3 linked regions of the Homo sapiens genome follow. The main gene of each other region encodes a partner of the protein of the gene in region 3 in a complex. Each region holds a gene or a part of one and is shown on either strand. Other genes may lie near its edges.

Evidence for each region.
Region 1: SRRM2 (region 3) and SNRNP40 share a complex: the UniProt entries of both Homo sapiens proteins name them as parts of the minor spliceosome.
Region 2: SRRM2 (region 3) and SNW1 share a complex: the UniProt entries of both Homo sapiens proteins name them as parts of the minor spliceosome.

The regions. Positions count from the first base shown.
Region 1 is NC_000001.11:31,286,389-31,293,788, forward strand, and holds part of SNRNP40 (U5 small nuclear ribonucleoprotein 40 kDa protein), read right to left. Parts: intron 6,961-7,400; coding exon 6,831-6,960; intron 5,619-6,830; coding exon 5,525-5,618; intron 3,032-5,524; coding exon 2,866-3,031; intron 1-2,865. UniProt on the Homo sapiens protein: Required for pre-mRNA splicing as component of the activated spliceosome. Component of the U5 small nuclear ribonucleoprotein (snRNP) complex and the U4/U6-U5 tri-snRNP complex, building blocks of the spliceosome.
Region 2 is NC_000014.9:77,757,757-77,765,791, reverse strand, and holds the start of SNW1 (SNW domain-containing protein 1), read left to right. Parts: upstream 1-4,635; 5' UTR 4,636-4,664; coding exon 4,665-4,678; exon of another isoform or gene 4,679-5,024; intron 5,025-8,035. UniProt on the Homo sapiens protein: Involved in pre-mRNA splicing as component of the spliceosome. As a component of the minor spliceosome, involved in the splicing of U12-type introns in pre-mRNAs.
Region 3 is NC_000016.10:2,762,319-2,770,118, forward strand, and holds part of SRRM2 (serine/arginine repetitive matrix protein 2), read left to right. Parts: coding exon 1-5,943; intron 5,944-6,678; coding exon 6,679-6,966; intron 6,967-7,800. UniProt on the Homo sapiens protein: Required for pre-mRNA splicing as component of the spliceosome. As a component of the minor spliceosome, involved in the splicing of U12-type introns in pre-mRNAs.

The sequences.
Region 1 (7,400 bases), on a different chromosome or scaffold from region 3:
CACCCTTCCCTACTTGAATTGTGATTCCCATTCTTGGTTGAAGCCATGTGTGACTCTTCCTTAACCAACTTGGGTCATTCCTCTGTGTGAACACCCTCATCACTCTGCTACGGCTCTTTTCCAGTCTGCACTTCTCCAAGCATGCAGTCATCATCTTGCTCAGTCTCAGACTCCCTACACCAAATCATTTCTACCCTGTGTGGATGCCCTCAGTTCAGGCTTTGACATCCACATTCTCCCCGTACTGCTTCACGTACAGGCGACCCTTTCACCCCATTAGGGCACTGTTGGGCTGCTGCCCCTCCCTCACCCTCAAATTCCCCACACTGGTTACCTACCCTGTGTTGTATGGATGCCTTCCTCACTCTCTGACTACTCCCTACAATGTACTGCCCTGCCCAGTGTGGATGCTCTCCTTACCACACTTGTGCTCTGACACTCTACTCTGGGCCACCTTGGCCCATCTCTAACTAGAGCACCTTCCCTGCTTTGGCCTATATAACTGGCTTTAGGACTGAACTGCTCATGAAAGGGAAATTTATATATATATGAGTACATACACACATACACGCAGTATTTCACTTAATTTTATTAGAAGAATGCACTTGATAAAAAGTTTGAAAACGATCTGTATGAATAATGCCCAGAATGCTTTTAGACTAAAAATGCAAGTGCTGTTGGAAACCTTTGCTTTCTGTTAAGAACTCTGACATGTAAAAAGCAACATGACTTTTTTTCCTCTTAAACTGAAGTTATTCAATTCCTGTACTTGCAACCTAGTAACAAAAATACAAGAACACAAAGCATTCCAACTTCACAAGTAACTGAAAAGTACATTGCAAAAAGCTGTTTAATGATGCCTTAAATATAAATATACTGACATTAAAAATAGGAGCTGGTTAAAAAGCAGTCATCTTTAGGTGATGTGACATACTGCTTATTAAAAAAAGTATTAACTTGAGTAATAAGGTAAAAATAACTATTCCAAATCATGTTTAATTAAGGCAGAAGAGAAGCAAAAAACCAAAAGAAGGCAGACAGAAAGGACATATACTCTTTTTCTACTACCTAAATAGTTCCTAGATATTTATTACAGCAGGCCCTCAATAATAATGTTAACAAAATTCACTGGGGCATTTCCACCTCTTACTATCTTCTGAAATGACAATTAGTAAATCAGCTACTGTTAAGACTCTCCAACTACAGTGACATCTAGGTCAGAGCTCTGGTTTAGAAACCAATCTTAAACAACAGACTCTCCTCCCATCCAACCATCAAGGGGCCCCAAGTGATTAGGTATAAGAAAACCACTCAGTAGAAAAACGTCTCAGCCAAGTGTGGTGGCTCACGCCTGTAATCCCAGCACTTTGGGAGGCCGAGGGGGGCGGATCACAAGGTCAGGAGTTTGAGACCAGCCTGGCCAATATGATGAACCCCTGCCTCTACTGAAAATACAAAAACTAGCTGGGCGTGGTATGGGTCCCTGTAGTCCCAGCTACTAGGGAGGCTGAGGCAGGGGAACTGCTTGAACCCAGGAGGTAGAGGTTGCAGTGAGCTGAGATTGCGCCACTGCACTCCAGCCTGGGCAACATGGTGAAACCCCATCTCTACCAAAAATAGAAAAATTAGGCAGGTATGGTGGTGTGCACCTGTAATCCCAGCTACTCAAGAGGCTGAGGCTGGGGAATCACTTGAACCCGGGAGGTGGAGGCTACAGTGAGCCAAGATTGTGCCACTGCACTCCAGCCTGGGCGATAGAGCAAGACCCTGTCTCAAAGAAAAAAAAAAAAAAGCAAATTCATTAATTCATTTAAAAAGCAATAAGAAGTATGGGGGTGTAGTTTCCCAGATGTACTCTTTTGAAGTCCCTCACTGTTTAACAATTAAAATATAAACCAGAGCCCAAAATTCGTGTCAAAGAGAGAATCAAATGGTTGGTACTATGATGTACTGTGTCCTTGTGTGCCTCTGAGATAAATTATTATTTCTAGGCCTCAGTTTCCTTATTTATAAAATGAGGATGCTCAGTGAGATCAGTGGCTCCCAGAATGTGAGACTGGCTACACTGAATCACTTGAAGGACACATTAAAATATCTGATTCCCATTGCAGATCCACTGAACCAGATTCTTTGGGTATTTTTAACAGGTTCTTCAGGTGATGATGATATAAAGATAGGCTGGCAACCATCTGACTAAACGATGTTTAAGTTCCCATCTTGTGCCATACTAAAACTATTCACTGAACTTTTTATATATTGTCTATAATCTCAGAACAGCCTTTTTTTTTTTTTTGCTACCTCCCTGTTGGTGGAGATACTCATAACAGCCTTGAAAGACACGTATATTACTGTCACAGTTCTTTTTTTTGAGACAGAGTCTCGCTCTGTCGCCCAGGCTGGAGTGCAGTGGTGCAATCTCTGCAAGCTCCACCTCCCGGGTGCACACCATTCTCCTGCCTCAGCCTCCCAAGCAACTGGAACTACAGGTGCCCGCCATCACGCCCGGCTTATTTTTTGTATTTTTAGTAGAGACGGGGTTTCACCGTGTTAGCCAGGATGGTCTTGATCTCTTGACCTCGTGATCCACCCGCCTCGGCCTCCCAAAGTGCTGGGATTACAGGCGTAAGCCACAGCACCCGGCCTATTTCAAGTAACAATTTATTCTATGGTTCTATTATTATTCTGTAGGGTAATTAAAACTTGTATTAAATGTTTTATTTTAAATGGGGAAAAATTTCAAGTGTGTTATGGGAGATGACTGCTAAAATTAAGTTTTGCACAGGAAGCTAGAGTACAAGTGGCAAGGCAAGATAAGGTTCACATCACATCACCTCAGAAACTGGAACACGGAGAGACAATACCCACCTTAACTGTGCCATCGTCACTGCCAGTGCAGACAAGCTGAGGGCCTCTCCTGGCTGGATAACAGGAATTCACAAAGGAAGTATGTCCCTTTAGCCTTTTAACCCTCTCACCTGTTTCACTATCCCACACAGCCACGGTTTTATCTGTGGATGCTGAGAAAAGCATACTAGAAAGTAAGAGAAAGAATAAAAAAGAAATAAGTGAAGATAAACAGTAACAATCTATCTTTCCTACTTGACAAAAGGTGCCAAATTTTTCAAGATCACTGACCTGCTGTGCTACGCCAGTTTGCCCATGATGCTGGAATGCCTCACCCTACCAAAATCCTATTTGTCCTCTAGGCCCAGATGGCCCAGATAAAAGATCTACCCCTGTGAAGTTTAAAAAATTCCCCTTCTTTGAGTCCCCATGACATACATCTAATGTAGCAGTTTGCTCTATCTTTTCCTCTTTTGTGATAGCTAACATTTTAAACATAAGACACCCTCTCACTTGGAAATGTTTAATAACTCCCTGGTGCTGCAGAGATCAGACAGACTGTGGTACCGACCTGACAGCTGAGTGACTCCAATCTTTTCTCTTTACCAAAGTTTTTCTTTTGTCTCTGAGGACAATTTCTTTCTTTCATTTTTTTTTTGAGATGAGATCTTGCTCTGTCACCCGGGTTGGAATCATGGCTCACTGCAGCCTCGACCTCCTGGGCTCAAGTGATCCTCCCACCTCAGCCTCCTGAGTAGCTGGGACCACAGGTCTGTGCCACCATGCTCAGTTAATTTTTAAAAATCATTTGTAGAGGCAAGGTCTCACTATGTTGCCCAGGCTGGTCTTGAACTGGGCTCAAGCAATCTTCCTGCCTCAGCCTCCTACAGTGCTAGGGTTATAGGCGTAAGCAACCACGCCCAGCCTCTGAGGATGATTTCTAAGTTATAACTGATCTTATAATGCTTTCTTTTTTCATTTTTTTTGAGATGGAGTCTCACTGTGTTGCCCAGGCTGGTTTTGAACTCTTGGGCTCCAGGAATCCTCCTGCCTCAGCCTCCCAAATAGCTGGGATTATAAGCACATGCCACCAGGCCCAGCTTTCTAATGCTTTATTTAAAATGTATACAATGCTATGTATCAATTGATGGAGCACCCTAAGATTTTAGAGGTCAGAAATGTAAAACAATGAATGTTTACCAGACTACCTAACAATGTAATTACTTTTGTATAGCCAGATTTCTATATTATCTATAATATATTCTAAAATAATATAGTCATTAAAATGACGTTTATGACATCAGATGTTGGCTGAGCAATGTTAAGAGAAAAAAGGAGCAAATAAGATTGTACACACAGTTCTGGCCAGGTGCGGTGGCTCACACTTGTAATCCCAGCATTTTGGGAGGCCAAGGCGGGCGGATCACAAGGTCAGGAGATCGAGACCATCCTGGCTAACACGGTGAAACCCCATCTCTATTAAAAATACAAAAAAATTAGCCGGGCATGGTGGCGGGCACCTGTAATCCCAGCTACTCAGGAGGCTGAGGCAGGAGAATGGTGTGAACCCCGGAGACGGAGCTTGCAGTGAGCCGAGATCGCACCACTGCACTCCAGACTGGGCGACAGAGCAAGACTCCGTCTCAAAAAAATAAAATAAAATAAATAAATAAATAAAAAAGATTGTACACATAGTTCTAACAAATATGCAACAACTAAACAGTTCTGAGTAGAAAAAAAGGCATTAGAAAAATGTATAAAATTAACAGTGATTGGCCAGGCACGGTGGCTCATGCCTGTAATCCCAGCACTTTGGGAGGCTGAGGTGGGCGGATCACCTGCGGTTGGGAGTTCAAGACCAGCCTGACCAACATGGAGAAACCCAGTCTCTACAAAAAATACAAAATTAGCCAGGCACGGTGATGCATCCCTGTAATCCCAGCTATTCTGGAGGCTGAGGCAAGAGAAACACGTGAACCTGGGAGGCGGAGGTTGCAGTGAGCCGAGATCGTGCCATTGCACTCCAGCCTGGGCAACAAGAGTGAAATTCCGTCTCAAAAAAAAAAAATTAACACTGATTATCTTTGGAGTGGTAGAAATATAGACTATTTTTTCATCTTTCTGCTTTTTTTGGTTTCTCAAAAGAAATGATTTTTATAATAGAAATAGCTGATTTCAGGCCAGGCATGGTGGTTAATTATTGTAATCACAGCATTTTTGGGAGGCTGAGGCAGGTGGACTGCTTGAGCTCAGGAGCAATATAGCAAGACCATGTCTCCACAAATGATTTTTAAAAATTAGCTGGGCATGGAGGCGTGGGCTTGTGGCCCCAGCTATTTGGGAGGCTGAAGTGGGAGGATCCCTCGAGCAAGAGGTTGAGGCTGCAGTGAGCCATGTTTGTGTCACTGCACTCCAGCCTACATATAAAAATCACATTTATTTTATGTCTTAAAAAAAGAAAAATTTGTCTGGGTTGTTGAAATGACCGATGTAACATCTTTATATTTGCATACACAGACTATAAACACCTCACTTGGGGTGACAGTGATAAATCGGATACTAAAGTAGCTACCCAAAATTAGTAGTTTTTGATAGCAGGGTCTCCTGAGAAAGGATGAAAGGTGAAAGGACGCCAAGAATTAGTATGAGAAGCTGTCCTTCCATTATGCAGAATACTCACCTGCCATCTGTGTTGTAATGCAATTCCATCACTGCTCCACTGTGTCCCTTCAGTGTGGCATAGTTATCACAGTCACCATAGACATTCCACAGTACTGTTAGGGAGATGGGTTCTGTGAGCATTACTAGGCAAAGGGTACTTATAAATTTATCAGAACAACAGTTCTCAGGTCAGGCACGGTGGCTCACACCTGTAATCCCAGCACTTTGGGAGGCCGAGACGGGTGGATCACTTGAGGTCAGGAGTTCGAGACCAGCGTGGCTGATACGGCGAAACCCCATCTTTAATAAAAATAAAAAAATCAGCCAGGTGTAGTGGCAGACGCCTACAATCCCAGCTCTTGGGAGACTGAGGCAGGAGAATCACTTGAACCCAGGAGACGGAGGATGCAGTGAGCCGAGATCGCGCCACGGCACTCCAACCTGGGTGACAGAGTGAGACTCCGTCTCTAAAAAGCCAACCGACCAACCAAACAAAAAAAACTATGTAGTTTGTCTGATGAAATTAAGCCTATCAATAATTCATATATGTTCTGCAAAGATCCCTAAGCAATCCAGACGTTTGGCCACTAGTAAGCTTAAGGATCATAGAGCCGGAACATCCAAATCAAAATGGGCAGTGAAGACGGGTATCATCCACCCGGCACCGAGGAAAAGAGTTAACAGAAAAGAGCCAAATAACTCATTTCATCTCATAATCTGGCAAGAAAGTAGCAACAGAAGCATCTGATTTTTTTTCCTTCTGGCTTCATTTGCTGGAGTATAAATAAAACGACTTTTTCTACTTACTTCTCAAAAATGGGTATGAGAAATTCTTATTTCTCAAAAATGGAAATCTGGTAGTAGATCCTAATGATGTACAGGTAGATTATTTAAGGGAGTTACCACTTTAGGATTCCTTCCTTCCCATATGCTAGCTAGGATTCTGGGTGTGAATTAAGAGGACCTTATACCTTTGGGAAAATAAAAGTTATTTCTCTCCTCATTACTGCCATTAACCTGTTATGTCTAGATTGCTAAGTGCCTTGGTAAATTAGCTGGAGATTTGCCTCTATGAGGAAGACATTCTCAAACCAGAACAACTCACTTTCCAACTAGTAAAATAATGGCTTCTGTATTTACCCCATGGACTCCAAGTTCTACACCCAAGATCATTCAGCATGTTCATGCCCCAATTTTAGCATATTAGCCATGCAGCCTGTTATGTTGCCAACATAGAGTGATACCTTCTGTGGCACCCAAGATTTAAAAAAAAAAATCACTATCTGGCAGGAAAAATTATTCCAGATTCAAAAACTATGCCTCACATATCAGTCGGTCAAATCCTGCAGATGCTAAGGTGGATCCGTTGGGGTGGAACTTGCAGCAGTAGACTTCCCCTTCATGTCCAGAGAGCAGCATGATTGGGGCTTGAAGGGAGGAACATCTTGGAGGTCCCTAAACAAAAGAGAAGCACAAGGTAACTACTGCATACAGACAAAGGAGGCTACAAAATTAGGGGGTGGGGAGTGGAGGGAAAAGACCAAGAAAACAATGATTAAGTGGGTTTCATCTGACTTACAGAATGGTAGCTCTTCTCATATGAATGCCTCCAACTTGACACTCTCTGAAACTTTCCATTATCTACCTGTTATAATGACTCTCTTGTTCACTCTCTCAGCTCTTGTTGTACGACCAACTTTTTTTTGGAGATAGGGTCTCACTCTGTCACCTAGGCTGGACTGCAGTAGTGTGATCATGGTTCACTGCAGCTTCAAACTCCTTGGCTCAAGTGATCCTCCTGCCTCAGCCTCCTGAGTAGCCAGGACTACAGGCATGAACTAGCATGCCATGCTAATTTTTTTAGTTTTTGTGGAGATGAGGTCTTGCTACGTTGC
Region 2 (8,035 bases), on a different chromosome or scaffold from region 3:
AGGCGCCCATAATCCCAGCTACTTGGGAGACTGAGGCAGGAGAATCACTTGAACCCGGGAGGCAGAGATTGCAGTAAGCCAAGACTGCGTCACTGTACTCCAGCCTGGGTGACAAGAGCAAAATTGTGTCTCAAAACAAAAAACAAACAAAAAAGAAGAAAGTAAGTTGACACATTTCATCCCCAAATCCTCTGGCATGCATCTCCCAAGAATAAGAACGTTCTTCTACTTAACCACAATGTCATTAATACTCCTAAGAAATTTAGCAAAAATTCTACAATGTTGTCTATTATCACTCCATATGCAACTTTCTCCAAATGTCCCAAGAATATTTTTTATAGTTTTCCCCAACTGAACCAGAATCCCATCAAGGTTTACTAATTTTATGTGTCATGTCTCATCAATCTGTTTTCATCTATTCTATTCACATCCATTCCATGACATTGACATTTTGTAGAGTCTCAGTCAGTTGTCTTGTAGAATGTCTCACATTCTGGATTTTACTGATTGTTTCCTCATGCTTTTAAACTTGTTACTCTATCCCCTGAATTTCTTGTGAACTGGACATTAGGTCTGGTTTGATCAGAAAATTGGTGAACTTCCGGCCAGGTGCAGTGGCTCATACCCGTAATCCCAGCACTTTGGGATGCCAAGGTGGGTGGATCACTTGAGGCCAGGAGTTCAAGACTAGCCTGGCCAACATGGTGAAACCCCATCTCTACTAAAAATGCAAAAATTAGCCAGGCGTGCTTGCTCATGCCTGTAATCCCAGCTACTCGGGAGGCTGAGGCAGGAGAATCGCTTGAACTAGGGAGGCAGAGGTTGCAGTAAGCCGAAATCGCACCACTGCACTCCACCCTGGGCAACGGAGGAAGACTCGGTCTAAAAAAAAAAGAAAGAAAGAAAGAAAGAAAGAAAGAAAGAAAGAAAACTGGGGAACTTCCTATTAAAAGCACCTAGTGTCAGATTGTTCCACTGTTAGTGAAGCAAAAGTGATGACAGCCAAATCTCTCCATCGTAAAGATACGTTATTTCTTTCGCAGTTCCTAAGTAATCATTGGCTCTAGCCTTTTTAACTATGCTTTAATGCAAACCAATATTTTAATTAAAAAAAAATTTTAAACATTGAGAGGGCACGTAAAACACATCCAAAAAGTAAGAACGGTGTGGTGGAGCAGCTCTACTTTTTATCAGAGAATGATTATAATAATATAGCCATAATAACTAAAGCATAATGGCATCAGAGCATAAAATACTGGCATTGAAGTAAATTTAAAAAAACATCCTATAGTAGAAAATGTTAGTGGGAAGGTACCCCAGAAATAAAATTGAGTTCAACTGCCTCACTTTGCAGATGCAAAACCTGAACCTTAATAAATTAAGGCCAATTCATTAAAGCCAGAAAGCATAATTAATTTTTGAGCGCTTACTCTATGCTGGGCATTTTTCTAAGCACTTCACATGATTAACTCATTTAATCCTCCCAATAGCTTTATTGAGGATAAGTTATACTGATTCCACGCCCCTCACCCTTTTTATTGGCCAGTGAGAAAACTGAGACAGAGAGAAGTGACTTATCCAGAATCTACAGCTCATAAATTAGGGAGCTGGGATCAGAAGGCAGGAAAGCTGACTCCAGAATATGTGCTTAACTTGTCCTCCCTACCACCTCACAAGCTATATTACTTGTGGCTACATAGCCACACCTACTTAGGAATCAAATTAGGCCCTAGGTTCTCTGAGAACAATTCTACTCTCTATCCAGAATTCTAAGACTGGAGTGAATTGATTGCTTCTTGCAACCTGGCGCATTACTGATTCCAGCATGCACTGGGCTCTCTACATGAGCAGGCAGCTGCTAATTACCTATGATAATGAGGGATGGATAGGCACTGAAGATTCAGCATAGCTTAACACCAAACCCCCTCCCCAACAAAACCAAAGAAAGCACTAGGCCTTTGGGTATAATATTGTATCACGTTTGCAGTAGATTTGCTTTCTTAATTGTTTTGATAGGATTGCTATTAAAGTCAGTTTCTATTCTTTACACACCCCCAAAACAGCGAGGGACTATGACTGGTGGAAATGCCTTGCATGATGTGCCTCTGTGGAAAATGAGAGTGGATTGCAAAAGCTCTTCTCCACCCTGTTCTTTCAATCCTGCATCCCAGGTCTTGGTCTATGTCTTACTGATTTCCCATGTTAATTATTTTAACCTTGTCCTCAGTAGCCTCCTTTGTCTCTCATTGCCATAGAAACCCATTCTGCCTTAAGAATTGTCTTTCTTGCCTGTTCCTTTGACCCAGGCCCTCTACTTAAGTCCTCCTTCAGCTGCAAATCACCTGCTGAACTAAATCTAAGCTCCTTGATCTTGGCTTCCAGGACGTTCTATAATTTGCTTCTCTGTTTTTCTCCTTTTAGAAATAATACATTCCTGGAGCAGAGGTTGAAGTAGATCACTGTCAACCAAAATATTAACTGTAATAACTAACATATTTACATAGTACTTAAGAGTTAAGTAAAAACATATCCACCTACATTACCTCATTTAAGGCTCATACTCTGCTGTATTGTATATAATTATTTTACATTTATATAAATATAGGTAAAGCAGATAACATGATCAGCATTTTAAGTTCAATAAAACTGGGGCCCAAATAAATTAAATGACTTGCCCTATAAGAATTTATTGGTGCTGAAGCTACATCTTTTTTTTTTTTTTTTTTTTTTCTGAGACAGTTTCACTCTTGTTGCTCAGGCTAGAGTGCAACGACGCACGATCTCGGCTCACCACAACTTCCGCCTCCCGAGTTCAAGCGATTCTCCTGCCTCGGCCTCCCGAGTAGCTGGGATTACAGGCAAGCACCACCACGCCCGGCTAATTTTGTATTTTCAGTAGAGACGCAGTTTCTCCATGTTGGTCAGGCTGGTCTCAAACTCCCGACCTCAGGTGATCTGCCCGCCTCAGCCTCCCAAAGTGCTGGGATTAAAGGCACAAGCCACCACACCCAGCCAAAGCTACATCTTAAACTCTAATCTTCGGGCTCCCAGGCCATGCAGGTTATATTACACAATGTGATTAACAATCCTGTATTTACCAAAAGATTTTTTCTTTTTGTTTTTTTGGTTTACATGCTGTGGCAGGCAGAATTCTAGGATATCCCCCAAGATCTCCTCCTCACCCAACCCCCACAGTACCTGACCTACATAACCCCTGGGGCCATGACTATGAAGATTCTGATTCTGTTATGCGGTGTGGCAGAGTTGATTTTTTTTTTTTTTTTGAGACAGAATTTTACTTTGTCACCCACGCTGGAGTGCAATGGTGCAATCTCGGCTCACTGCAACCTCCACCTCCTGGGTTCAAGCGATTCTTGTACCTCAGCCTCCCAAGTAGCTGAGAAAACAAGAGCACATCACCACACCCAGCTATTCTTTTATATTATTTATTTATTTATTTATTTATTTATTTTTATTTTTTGAGACGCAGTCTCACTCTGTCGCCAGGCTGGAGTGCAGTGGCGTGATCTTGGCTCACTGCAACCTCCGTCTCCTGATTCACACGATTCTCCTGCCTCAGCCTCCCCAGTAGCTAGGACTACAGGAGCGCGCCACAACGCCCAGCTAATTTTTGTATTTTTAGTAGAGACAGGGTTTCACCATGTTGCCCAGGCTTTGTCGAACTCCTGAGCTCAGGCAATCCGCCCGCCCCGACCTCCCAAAGTGCTAGGATTACAAGTGTGAGCTACTGCGCCCGGCCAAGAGTTGATCTTAAAATAGGGAGATTATCCAGGTGCTCCTGATCTAATCACATGAGCCCTTTAAAAGCAGGGCATTTTTCTCCAACAGTGGCAGAAGAGGAGTCAGAAAGATGTGCCTCAGAAAGCAAATATCCATGTTGTGAACTACCAATAAATAGGGCTCATGTGGGAAGGACTCGAGAGTGACCCCTAGGAGCTGAGGGTGGCCACCACTAACAGCACAAAACAAAACAGGGAACTCGATCCCACAACCGCCAGGAACTGATTTTTGCCAACAAGAATGAGTTAGGAGATGGATTTTTCTCCAGAGCCTCCTATGAGATTTCAGCCTTGTCATACCCTGGGCAGAGAACCCAGACACTCGGTAAATTACCAAGGATTACGAAATATCTCCCCAAGAGAGTGTTTTGGCGGGTGAGAGGATATGGTTTAAAGAAAAGTTTTGAGTGTGAATGTTTTCAGAGAGTCCAAGGACTCTCCATTAGCTAGTCTCATTATTACCTGTCGTTTTAAACGCCCTATCACTCTTACTTAAAGTAGCTGTCCCCGGGAAGCTTTTGTATTTTGTACCCCTTCTCGGGGAACGGGACTGAGTAAGGAACGTAATAAAGCGGCCTAAAAGGCATCTCCCTGTATCTTTGATATTTTGCCTAGGGAACGCCCTATCATGTCGCATATAAGCGATCGAGTTATGCATTTGTTGCTAGCTGAAGAGATTATTCCTTGATAACCGCTTGGTCTGGTCAGAATACAAACGGTACTCCTGTTCAAAGAACTACAAATCCCAGAAGGCCTTTTCGGCCAGAGCGCCTGCGCATCGCGCACTCCTTCCTTTCCGCTCCTCATCATCTGGAAAGACCCGCCCAGCGGTGCTGTCGCTCGCGCTGGAAGAAGCGGAAGAAGATGGCGCTCACCAGGTGGGTTGTTGATTGGGGTCCTCGATACGGAAGGGTCTGGGAGTACCAGTCTTCTTCATTTCTCTTCCCATACCCTCCGGGCGGTGACCTGACCCGGGGCACAGAATGACGTGGGCCAAGACTACGGCTACGCCCTCCCGCTGGCCGCCGCTACGACTAGGCCTAGTCGAAGCTGGGGTCTTTCAGCGGTTTCCCGGGTTTAGTTCACCCGCTCACCGAGGCCGAAAGCTGCGGAGTGGTCTCAGACACTGAAGAGTGGGTTTTTCGCGTGAGCATCTTGCGGGGAGCGGACAGCGCTCCCTCAGGTCCGCGGCTCGGGCGAACGAGATGGGGTTGGTGACGGTAGTGGCTTATTTGGGCGGAGTGAAGCGCGCGGGCTGCGACTGCGCGGCTTTCCGGCCGTTTGCCTGTGGTGGTCTCTCTCCTTTCGCTGTCCACTGGGTGTCCCGAAACAAGGATTCCTGAAAAAAGAGGCCCGGAGCTGAACACAGATTTAAATGAGCCACAGTAGTGACCGCCGTCTGCTGATATGCGCCACTGCTCCGCATTTTAACTTTGGAGCTTAGAATTTCTTCCGTAGATAGAACCACCTCAGTTTTGCTGTTTCCGGTTACCTTAGTAACCGTCTGTAAAGTGCTCTCCGCCTTTAAGAAAAAGATGCTTTTCAGTGGGAGAGTCCGAGAAGTTACGCTACTCCTACTAGTTCCCAGCCTTGCTGCCCCATTTTAAGTGGAAAAACTTTCCATGCGAACTCAACAGGAAAAGGCTAGTGTTCAGGAAGGTTATAGATAAAGTAATCCTTTCAGGACATCAGCTTGAGCTCTTTTAACACCCTTCATTCTCCTCACGCATGTTTTTTTTTCTGGCTGATGACAGTATGACTCCAAAAGTTTTAATCAAAAAATTATTTTGGGAATTACTGTTGGTGCCTTGCTCTGTCCTGGGGGTTGTGTACACAGAAGAAAATCTGTCTTTGGCAACAGGGAAGATAGGGGTGCAAGGTATACAGACATAAAACAATTACAGAACACAAAATGTGCATTTGTGTAATACTAACCTTAGTGCAAAAAGAATTGAATGGAATAAGTTATGTGGGCTGGAGAGTTTTCTCCCCACCCTCGTTTCTAAAATTTTTTTGCTTTTTTTTTTAACTTTATTTTTTGAGATGCGGTCTCGCTGTGTTGGCCAGGTTGGTCTTGAATTCTTGGCCTCAAGCAGTCCTCCTGTCTCGGCCTCCGAAAGTGCTAGGATTACAGGCATGAGCCACCATGCCCGGCATCTGAAATTTTTTTAAAAAAAAACTAGAAATAGGGTGTTACTGCGTTGGCCAGAGTGGTCTCCAACTCTTGGCCTCCATCAATCTTCTCACCTAGGCCTCCCAAAGTGCTGGGATTGCAGGCATGAGCTACCATGCCCAGCCAAGAGTTTGTTTAGTAAATGTTACAGGCAGCAAACATTTGAGTGCTCCCCAGGTGTGAGACACTGTGTCATAGACTAGTAAAGTTATGAGGGGAGACTTTGTGGAAAAGGTGGAATTTGAAATGGACACACAGGAAAAATTTCTAGAGATGTCATGGGTATTTTTTATTTATTTTATTTTTTGATATAGGGTCTCACTCTTGCCCAGGCTGGAGTGCAGTGGCCCAATCACAGCCCACTGCAGCCTCAACCTCCCAAGGCTCAGGTGATCCTCCTGCCTCAGCGCCCTAGAGTAGCTGGGACTCTAGACGCTTGCCATGATGCCCAGTTAATTTTTGTTTTTTTTAGTAGAGATGGGGTTTTGCCATGTTGCCCAGCCTGGTCTTGAACTGGGCTTAACTGATCTGATCTACCCATCTCAGCCTCCCACAGTGCTGGCATTACTGGCGTGAGCCACCACATCATCTGGCCTGTCATGGGTATTGCGTGCTTAAAATTGCAGTGGCAGAATGCGATCTTTAAATGGCCAGTCTTGAGGACTCCAGAGCTTTCCATACCTACCATCTGGTGTTCCTCAGTATTCTTTGTAATATCCTTTAAATCAGTAAACACATTTCCCTGAGTTCTGTGAGCTGCCCTAGCAAATTAGTTGAACCTGAAGATGAGGTCATGGGAACCCTGGTTTGTAGTTAGTTGGCCAGTGGCCTTGGACCTACTGTTGGCATCTGAAGTAAGGGCAGTCTTGTGGGACTGAGCCTTCAACCTGTAACATCTGACAGTATCTCCAGGTAGATAACATCAAAATTGAATTGAATTAGAGGACACTTGACTGGTGTCCAGTAGACACAGTTGATAGCTTGCTTGATATGTGGGGAAAAACCATCACACATCTGGTATCAGAAGTGTTGTGTGTTGTTGATTGTTGAGTGAAATAATAGGAGAAACTGAGTTTGTTTTAATTTTATACTCTATCCACATGGAGCTTACACTCTAATGGGACAGAATTGGAATTCTAGTGGGACAGAATTCTAATTAGCTTACATTCTAATGGGACAGAGTGAGTAAAATCATAATGCAATTTCACGTAATACATGCTAGGAATAAAATAAAGACCGGGTTAGAGAGTGACTCAGAGTTTGGGGTGAAGTGGCTATTTTGGGTAAGGTGGTCAGAAAACAGCTCTAGAGAGAGGTAACTGAGCAGAGACAAGAGTGCTGAGATGCAAGCTGTTGAAAGATCTGGGGCTACTCTAGGCATACTGCCTGTGGGATAGCCCTGCCCAGCAAGGAGCAATCAAAAAAGAAAAGATCTGGAGATCTGGAGAAGAATTTTCTATAAAAGCATACGAAAATTTGTTCTTTTTTTTTTTTTTTTTTTTTGTGGCAGAGTCTCACTCTCACCCAGGCTGGAGTGCAGTGGAGCAATCTCAGCTCACTACAAACTCCACCTCCCAGGTTCAAGTGATTTTCCTGCCTCAGCTGGGATTACAGGCGTCCGCCACCACGCCCGGCTAATTTTTGTGTTTTTAATAGAGACAGGGTTTCACTATATTGGCATGGCTGGTCTCGAACTCCTGGCCTCAAGTAATCCACCTGCCTTGGCCTCCCAAAGTGTTGGAATTACAGGTGTGAGCCACCTCGCCCAGCCGGAAAAATTGTGATTGATTGCAATAGATAGATAGATAGAGAAAAATTGTGATTGATTGATTGCAATAGAGAAAAATTGTGATTGATTGATTGCGATAGATAGATAGATAGATAGATAGATAGATAGATGATTAGATTGATTTGATGGCAGAAGGAATAGCCAATGTAAAGATCCTGAGATGGCTTGTTTAAGAAAAGATAAGAAGGCTGTAGTGAAATAAAGATGGTGAGTGCTGGGGAAGAGTGTATTTATTTCTCCTACAACATTTAAGGAGCTCGAGCTGTGAGCTAG
Region 3 (7,800 bases):
AACTCCCACCAGGCGTAGGTCTCGGTCTAGAACACCAGCCCGGAGGGGCAGGTCTCGGTCTAGAACACCTGCTAGGCGCAGATCTAGGACCCGATCACCAGTACGACGCAGGTCTCGTAGTAGATCACCAGCCAGGAGAAGTGGCAGGTCACGCTCTAGAACCCCAGCTAGACGTGGCCGCTCACGCTCCAGAACCCCAGCCAGACGTGGCCGCTCACGCTCTAGAACCCCAGCTAGACGCAGTGGTCGCTCACGCTCCAGAACACCAGCCAGGAGAGGGAGGTCTCGGTCTAGGACACCAAGACGAGGAAGATCCCGCAGTAGAAGCTTAGTTAGACGTGGAAGATCTCACTCTAGAACACCTCAAAGAAGAGGCAGATCTGGCTCATCTTCAGAGCGGAAAAACAAATCCAGAACATCTCAAAGAAGAAGCAGGTCCAATTCAAGCCCAGAAATGAAGAAATCTCGCATTTCTTCAAGGCGGAGCAGGTCTCTCTCTTCACCACGGTCCAAAGCAAAATCTCGCTTGTCTTTGAGGCGCAGCCTTTCAGGGTCTTCCCCATGCCCTAAACAAAAGTCACAGACACCACCCAGGCGCAGTCGCTCTGGATCCTCCCAACCTAAAGCTAAATCTAGAACGCCACCCAGACGCAGTCGCTCCAGTTCTTCTCCGCCACCTAAACAGAAATCTAAGACACCATCAAGACAAAGTCATTCCAGTTCATCTCCTCATCCTAAAGTGAAATCTGGAACACCACCGAGGCAAGGGTCCATAACAAGTCCCCAGGCCAATGAGCAATCTGTAACGCCACAGAGACGGAGCTGTTTTGAATCATCACCTGACCCTGAGTTGAAATCTAGGACCCCTTCTAGACATAGCTGCTCAGGGTCCTCTCCTCCTAGAGTGAAATCTAGCACACCTCCCAGACAGAGCCCATCTAGGTCATCATCTCCACAACCCAAAGTGAAGGCAATAATATCACCAAGACAAAGAAGCCATTCTGGCTCCTCTTCTCCAAGTCCTAGTAGGGTGACGTCGAGAACAACTCCACGGCGAAGCAGATCAGTATCTCCCTGCTCCAATGTGGAATCCAGATTGTTGCCAAGATACAGTCATTCTGGGTCCTCCTCACCAGATACCAAAGTGAAACCTGAAACACCGCCAAGACAAAGTCACTCAGGGTCTATTTCACCATACCCCAAAGTAAAGGCCCAAACTCCACCGGGGCCAAGTCTTTCTGGATCAAAGTCACCATGTCCCCAAGAGAAGTCTAAAGACTCACTAGTTCAAAGTTGCCCTGGATCCCTCTCTCTCTGTGCAGGAGTAAAATCTAGCACACCACCAGGCGAGAGCTATTTTGGTGTCTCATCTCTGCAACTGAAAGGACAATCTCAAACTTCACCAGACCACAGATCTGATACTTCAAGTCCAGAAGTGAGACAGAGTCATTCAGAATCACCATCTCTGCAGAGCAAATCTCAAACATCACCTAAGGGAGGTCGGTCCAGGTCTTCATCTCCAGTCACTGAGCTGGCATCCAGATCTCCAATAAGACAAGATAGAGGTGAGTTCTCAGCGAGTCCTATGTTGAAATCTGGAATGTCTCCTGAGCAGAGCAGGTTCCAGTCTGACTCTTCTTCATATCCTACAGTGGACTCGAATTCTCTCTTGGGGCAGAGTAGATTGGAGACTGCTGAATCAAAAGAGAAAATGGCCTTACCCCCTCAGGAGGATGCTACTGCATCACCTCCTAGACAGAAAGACAAATTTAGTCCCTTTCCAGTACAGGATAGGCCTGAGTCTTCACTGGTATTCAAAGACACACTTAGAACCCCGCCAAGGGAAAGAAGTGGTGCTGGGTCATCTCCAGAAACAAAAGAGCAAAATAGTGCATTGCCTACGTCAAGCCAAGATGAAGAGTTAATGGAGGTGGTAGAGAAGTCTGAAGAACCCGCAGGCCAAATCCTGTCTCATTTGTCTTCAGAACTTAAAGAAATGTCCACAAGTAACTTTGAATCATCTCCTGAAGTAGAAGAAAGGCCTGCTGTGTCTTTGACTCTTGATCAGAGCCAGTCACAGGCTTCTTTGGAAGCAGTAGAAGTCCCTTCAATGGCCTCATCTTGGGGTGGGCCACATTTTTCTCCAGAACATAAAGAACTGTCTAACTCCCCACTCAGGGAGAACAGCTTTGGATCACCTTTAGAATTTAGAAACTCAGGCCCACTTGGTACAGAAATGAATACTGGATTTTCTTCTGAGGTTAAAGAAGATTTGAATGGACCGTTTCTTAATCAGCTGGAAACAGATCCATCTCTAGACATGAAAGAACAATCGACAAGATCCTCTGGACACAGCAGTTCTGAGTTATCCCCAGATGCAGTGGAAAAGGCAGGGATGTCTTCAAATCAGAGCATCTCTTCACCTGTGCTTGATGCTGTACCCAGAACACCCTCGAGAGAAAGAAGTAGTTCTGCATCTTCTCCTGAAATGAAAGATGGTTTACCCAGAACTCCATCAAGGAGAAGCAGGTCTGGGTCTTCTCCAGGACTTAGAGATGGGTCTGGGACTCCCTCGAGGCACAGCCTGTCTGGGTCCTCTCCTGGAATGAAAGATATACCTAGAACGCCATCTAGAGGGAGAAGCGAATGTGATTCTTCCCCAGAACCGAAAGCTTTGCCTCAGACTCCTAGGCCGAGGAGTCGTTCTCCATCATCCCCAGAGCTCAACAACAAGTGTCTTACCCCCCAGAGAGAAAGAAGCGGGTCAGAATCATCAGTTGATCAGAAAACTGTGGCTCGGACTCCCCTGGGGCAGAGAAGTCGTTCGGGATCCTCTCAAGAACTTGATGTGAAACCCAGTGCATCCCCTCAGGAAAGAAGTGAGTCAGACTCTTCTCCAGATTCTAAAGCCAAGACAAGAACCCCACTTCGGCAGAGGAGTCGGTCTGGATCATCTCCAGAGGTTGACAGCAAATCTCGACTATCCCCTCGGCGCAGTAGGTCTGGTTCCTCCCCTGAAGTGAAAGATAAGCCAAGAGCAGCACCCAGGGCACAGAGTGGTTCTGATTCCTCTCCTGAACCTAAAGCTCCAGCCCCTCGGGCCCTTCCCAGACGAAGCAGATCAGGTTCATCAAGCAAAGGCAGAGGCCCTTCTCCTGAAGGAAGCAGCAGTACCGAGTCCTCTCCTGAACATCCGCCCAAATCCAGAACTGCTCGCAGAGGTTCCAGGTCATCACCAGAGCCCAAGACCAAGTCTCGTACACCACCTCGACGTCGCAGCTCTCGATCATCTCCGGAGCTAACAAGGAAGGCCAGACTGTCCCGTAGAAGCCGCTCTGCCTCATCCTCACCAGAAACTCGCTCTAGAACTCCCCCAAGGCACCGGAGAAGTCCCTCAGTGTCTTCCCCGGAGCCAGCCGAAAAATCGAGGTCTTCACGCCGACGGCGCTCAGCTTCATCTCCACGCACTAAGACAACCTCAAGGAGAGGCCGCTCTCCTTCGCCAAAGCCTCGTGGACTCCAGAGGTCCCGTTCCCGCTCAAGGAGAGAGAAAACAAGAACAACCCGACGTCGAGATAGGTCTGGATCTTCTCAGTCAACCTCTCGGCGAAGACAGCGGAGCCGGTCAAGGTCGCGGGTTACTCGGCGGCGGAGGGGAGGCTCTGGTTATCACTCAAGGTCACCTGCCCGGCAGGAAAGTTCCCGGACCTCCTCTCGACGCCGAAGAGGCCGCTCTCGGACACCCCCAACCAGTCGGAAGCGTTCTCGCTCACGCACATCACCAGCCCCGTGGAAACGCTCTAGATCTCGAGCCTCTCCAGCCACTCACCGGCGATCCAGGTCCAGAACCCCCCTGATAAGCCGACGTAGGTCCAGATCTCGAACTTCACCAGTCAGCCGGAGACGGTCAAGGTCCAGGACTTCAGTGACTCGACGAAGATCCCGGTCAAGAGCATCCCCAGTGAGCAGAAGGCGATCCAGATCCAGAACGCCACCAGTAACCCGCCGTCGTTCAAGGTCTAGAACGCCAACAACACGCCGCCGCTCCCGTTCTAGAACTCCACCAGTGACTCGCAGAAGGTCCAGATCCAGGACTCCACCAGTAACCAGGAGGCGATCTCGAAGCAGAACTTCGCCTATCACTCGCAGAAGATCAAGATCCAGAACATCTCCGGTCACCCGAAGGAGATCTCGATCTCGCACATCTCCAGTAACTCGAAGAAGGTCCCGCTCTCGAACCTCACCAGTGACACGCCGCCGCTCTAGGTCCCGGACACCTCCAGCTATTCGGCGCCGCTCTAGATCTCGAACGCCACTGTTACCACGCAAACGTTCTCGAAGTCGCTCACCACTTGCTATCCGCCGCCGCTCCAGATCCCGTACTCCACGAACAGCTCGGGGTAAACGGTCCTTAACAAGATCTCCTCCAGCCATCCGCAGGCGTTCTGCATCTGGAAGTAGTTCTGATCGTTCACGATCTGCTACTCCTCCAGCAACAAGAAATCATTCTGGTTCACGGACACCTCCAGTAGCACTCAACAGTTCCAGAATGAGCTGCTTCAGTCGTCCTAGCATGTCCCCAACACCTCTTGATCGCTGCAGATCACCTGGAATGCTTGAACCCCTTGGCAGCTCTAGAACACCCATGTCTGTCCTGCAGCAAGCCGGCGGCTCCATGATGGATGGTCCAGGTCCCCGAATACCTGACCACCAGAGAACATCTGTGCCAGAAAATCATGCTCAGTCCAGGATTGCACTTGCCCTGACAGCTATCAGTCTTGGCACCGCTCGGCCTCCTCCGTCCATGTCTGCTGCTGGCCTTGCTGCAAGAATGTCCCAGGTTCCAGCCCCGGTGCCTCTCATGAGTCTCAGAACCGCACCAGCAGCCAACCTTGCCAGCAGGATTCCTGCAGCCTCTGCGGCAGCCATGAACCTAGCCAGCGCCAGGACACCTGCCATTCCAACAGCAGTGAACCTGGCTGACTCTCGAACGCCAGCTGCAGCAGCGGCCATGAACTTGGCCAGCCCCAGAACAGCGGTGGCACCTTCGGCTGTGAACCTGGCTGACCCTCGCACTCCCACAGCCCCAGCTGTGAACCTAGCAGGGGCCAGAACCCCAGCTGCCTTGGCAGCTCTGAGTCTCACAGGCTCTGGCACACCACCAACTGCTGCAAACTATCCCTCCAGCTCCAGAACACCACAGGCTCCAGCCTCTGCAAACCTGGTGGGTCCTCGGTCTGCACATGCCACAGCTCCTGTGAATATTGCCGGCTCCAGAACCGCCGCAGCCTTGGCCCCCGCGAGCCTCACCAGTGCTAGGATGGCTCCAGCATTGTCTGGTGCAAACCTCACCAGCCCCAGGGTGCCCCTTTCTGCCTACGAGCGTGTCAGTGGCAGAACCTCACCACCGCTCCTTGACCGAGCTAGGTCCAGAACACCACCGTCTGCCCCAAGCCAATCTAGGATGACCTCTGAACGGGCTCCCTCCCCTTCCTCTAGAATGGGCCAGGCTCCTTCACAGTCTCTTCTCCCTCCAGCACAGGATCAGCCGAGGTCTCCTGTGCCTTCTGCTTTTTCAGACCAATCCCGTTGTTTGATTGCCCAGACCACCCCTGTAGCAGGGTCTCAGTCCCTTTCCTCTGGGGCAGTGGCAACGACCACGTCCTCTGCTGGTGATCACAATGGCATGCTCTCTGTCCCTGCCCCTGGGGTGCCCCACTCTGATGTGGGGGAGCCACCTGCCTCTACTGGGGCCCAGCAGCCTTCTGCATTAGCCGCCCTGCAGCCAGCAAAGGAGCGGCGGAGTTCCTCCTCGTCGTCGTCGTCCTCTAGCTCCTCCTCTTCTTCATCATCGTCGTCGTCGTCCTCCTCCTCCTCTGGCTCCAGTTCTAGTGACTCAGAGGGCTCTAGCCTTCCTGTGCAACCTGAGGTGGCACTGAAGAGGTGAGGGAGCTTGACTTTTAGAAATCTTCAGTGGGGGAGGTATTGGGGATGGGTTGGGGAGTGGGGAGGGAGAAACCATGTCACAGGTGCTTGGCTCTTGGAGGAGGTATGGGGACCTTGACCCTCAAGCTGGGGGTAGAAGAGAATGCTGGGGCAGGGGGCGGAGGGAGGAGGAATGGGACAGATAAAAGTCTCCGAAGGTTCATTCTCTAGAGGATAATGATAAGTTTTCCGTCTCTACAGAGGACAGAACTAGAGGAAATGGACTTAATTTTACAGCAGGAGGGATGGCAGTTAGACCTCAAGAGGAACTCCCTGGGCTGGAAGGATCTTCAGAGGTCATCCCATCCCTCTCCCTGCCTCCAGGCAGGACGGCCCCTTCCCCAGCCAACCTGCACTCACAGGGGCCTCCCCAAGCTGCGGCTCTCCGAGGAAGGAGACTACCCAGCTTCAGCTTCCACACCTGAGCCCAGAGGCCTTATTCCTCCATCAGGGACATTCTTGAGGTTTAACCTTGATCCCTTATGCTGCGGGCCCCAGCCTGTTGCTTCTGTTAGCAGAGGTTGGGTCAGCTCGCACCACTGCTCTCCAGAGAATTGCTGGCTCACGTGGCTCGGAGAGCTCCCAGCGCCTTTCTCAGGCACCCCTCCCCCCACTGCCGTTCCTCCAGGCCAAGGAAGGTAGGGTTGGGGCTGGGGCAGCTTGTCTCCTTGTGACACTCCTCTCCTCCCACAGGGTCCCCAGCCCCACCCCAGCCCCAAAGGAGGCTGTTCGAGAGGGACGTCCTCCGGAGCCAACCCCAGCCAAACGGAAGAGGCGCTCTAGCAGTTCCAGTTCCAGCTCCTCCTCTTCATCTTCCTCCTCCTCCTCCTCCTCCTCTTCTTCCTCCTCCTCTTCCTCTTCTTCTTCTTCCTCCTCATCTTCCTCCTCCTCGTCGTCTTCCTCCCCTTCCCCTGCTAAGCCTGGCCCTCAGGCCTTGCCCAAACCTGCAAGCCCCAAGAAGCCACCCCCTGGCGAGCGGAGGTGAGTGCTGTCTTGCCTGAGTTGAAAGGTGGGTGGGGGAGTGACTTGTCCAGAGAAGGGGCCCTGGGGTGTGAGCTCCCCGCTGGGTGTCTCACGTGGCCTTGGGCATCTGGTTGTGGGGGAGGAGGCACTTGCTCTCCTCTCCCCATGCTCGTTGCACCCTGTTCTGGCGAAGGGCTGCGCCATCCACAGCGGCGCTCAGGCCAGGACCAGGGGGTCCTTGGTTTCTTCCTCTCCCTCCCTCAACACATAGCCTGTTCCCAGGGTTCTAGCTTTGTCTCCCTGTTGCTACTGCCAGGGCTCTGGTCTGGCCACCATCATCTTCTCCCGACTCTGTCCACAGCCTCCTCCCTGTCTCCCCGTCTCCACGCCATTCTCTTCCACATGTAGCCAGAGGGACCTTTCTAAAACGCACATCTGGCTACTTCCCTCCACTCCACAAATCCTTCGGGACGCCCTGTGGCCTGCAGGACAAAGCCCCACCTCTGCGGGAGTGGCGTGTGAGGCTCTTCACCAACGGGCCTTGCCCGCCCTGTGTTCTCCTCCTGCCCGCCCCCACACATGCCCTGTGCTCCAGCCACACCCAGCGCCTTGCAGTCTAAGGAGAGCCCATGCCTTTGGACATGCTGTTCCTTCTGCCTGGAATTTCCTTGTCCGCCTGGTGAACTCCTCGTTCTGCAAGACTCCGCTCAAAACAGCACCTTCGAGAAGACTGCCCTGCCCCTTCCCTGCCTTGCCCCATGTCCCCCTCCCTTGGGTCCCCAGAGCCACGCACATCCAGCCCTGCTTCCCACACACGGGGCCGTGCGTGCCTTTCTTCACCACTGAGCTCCT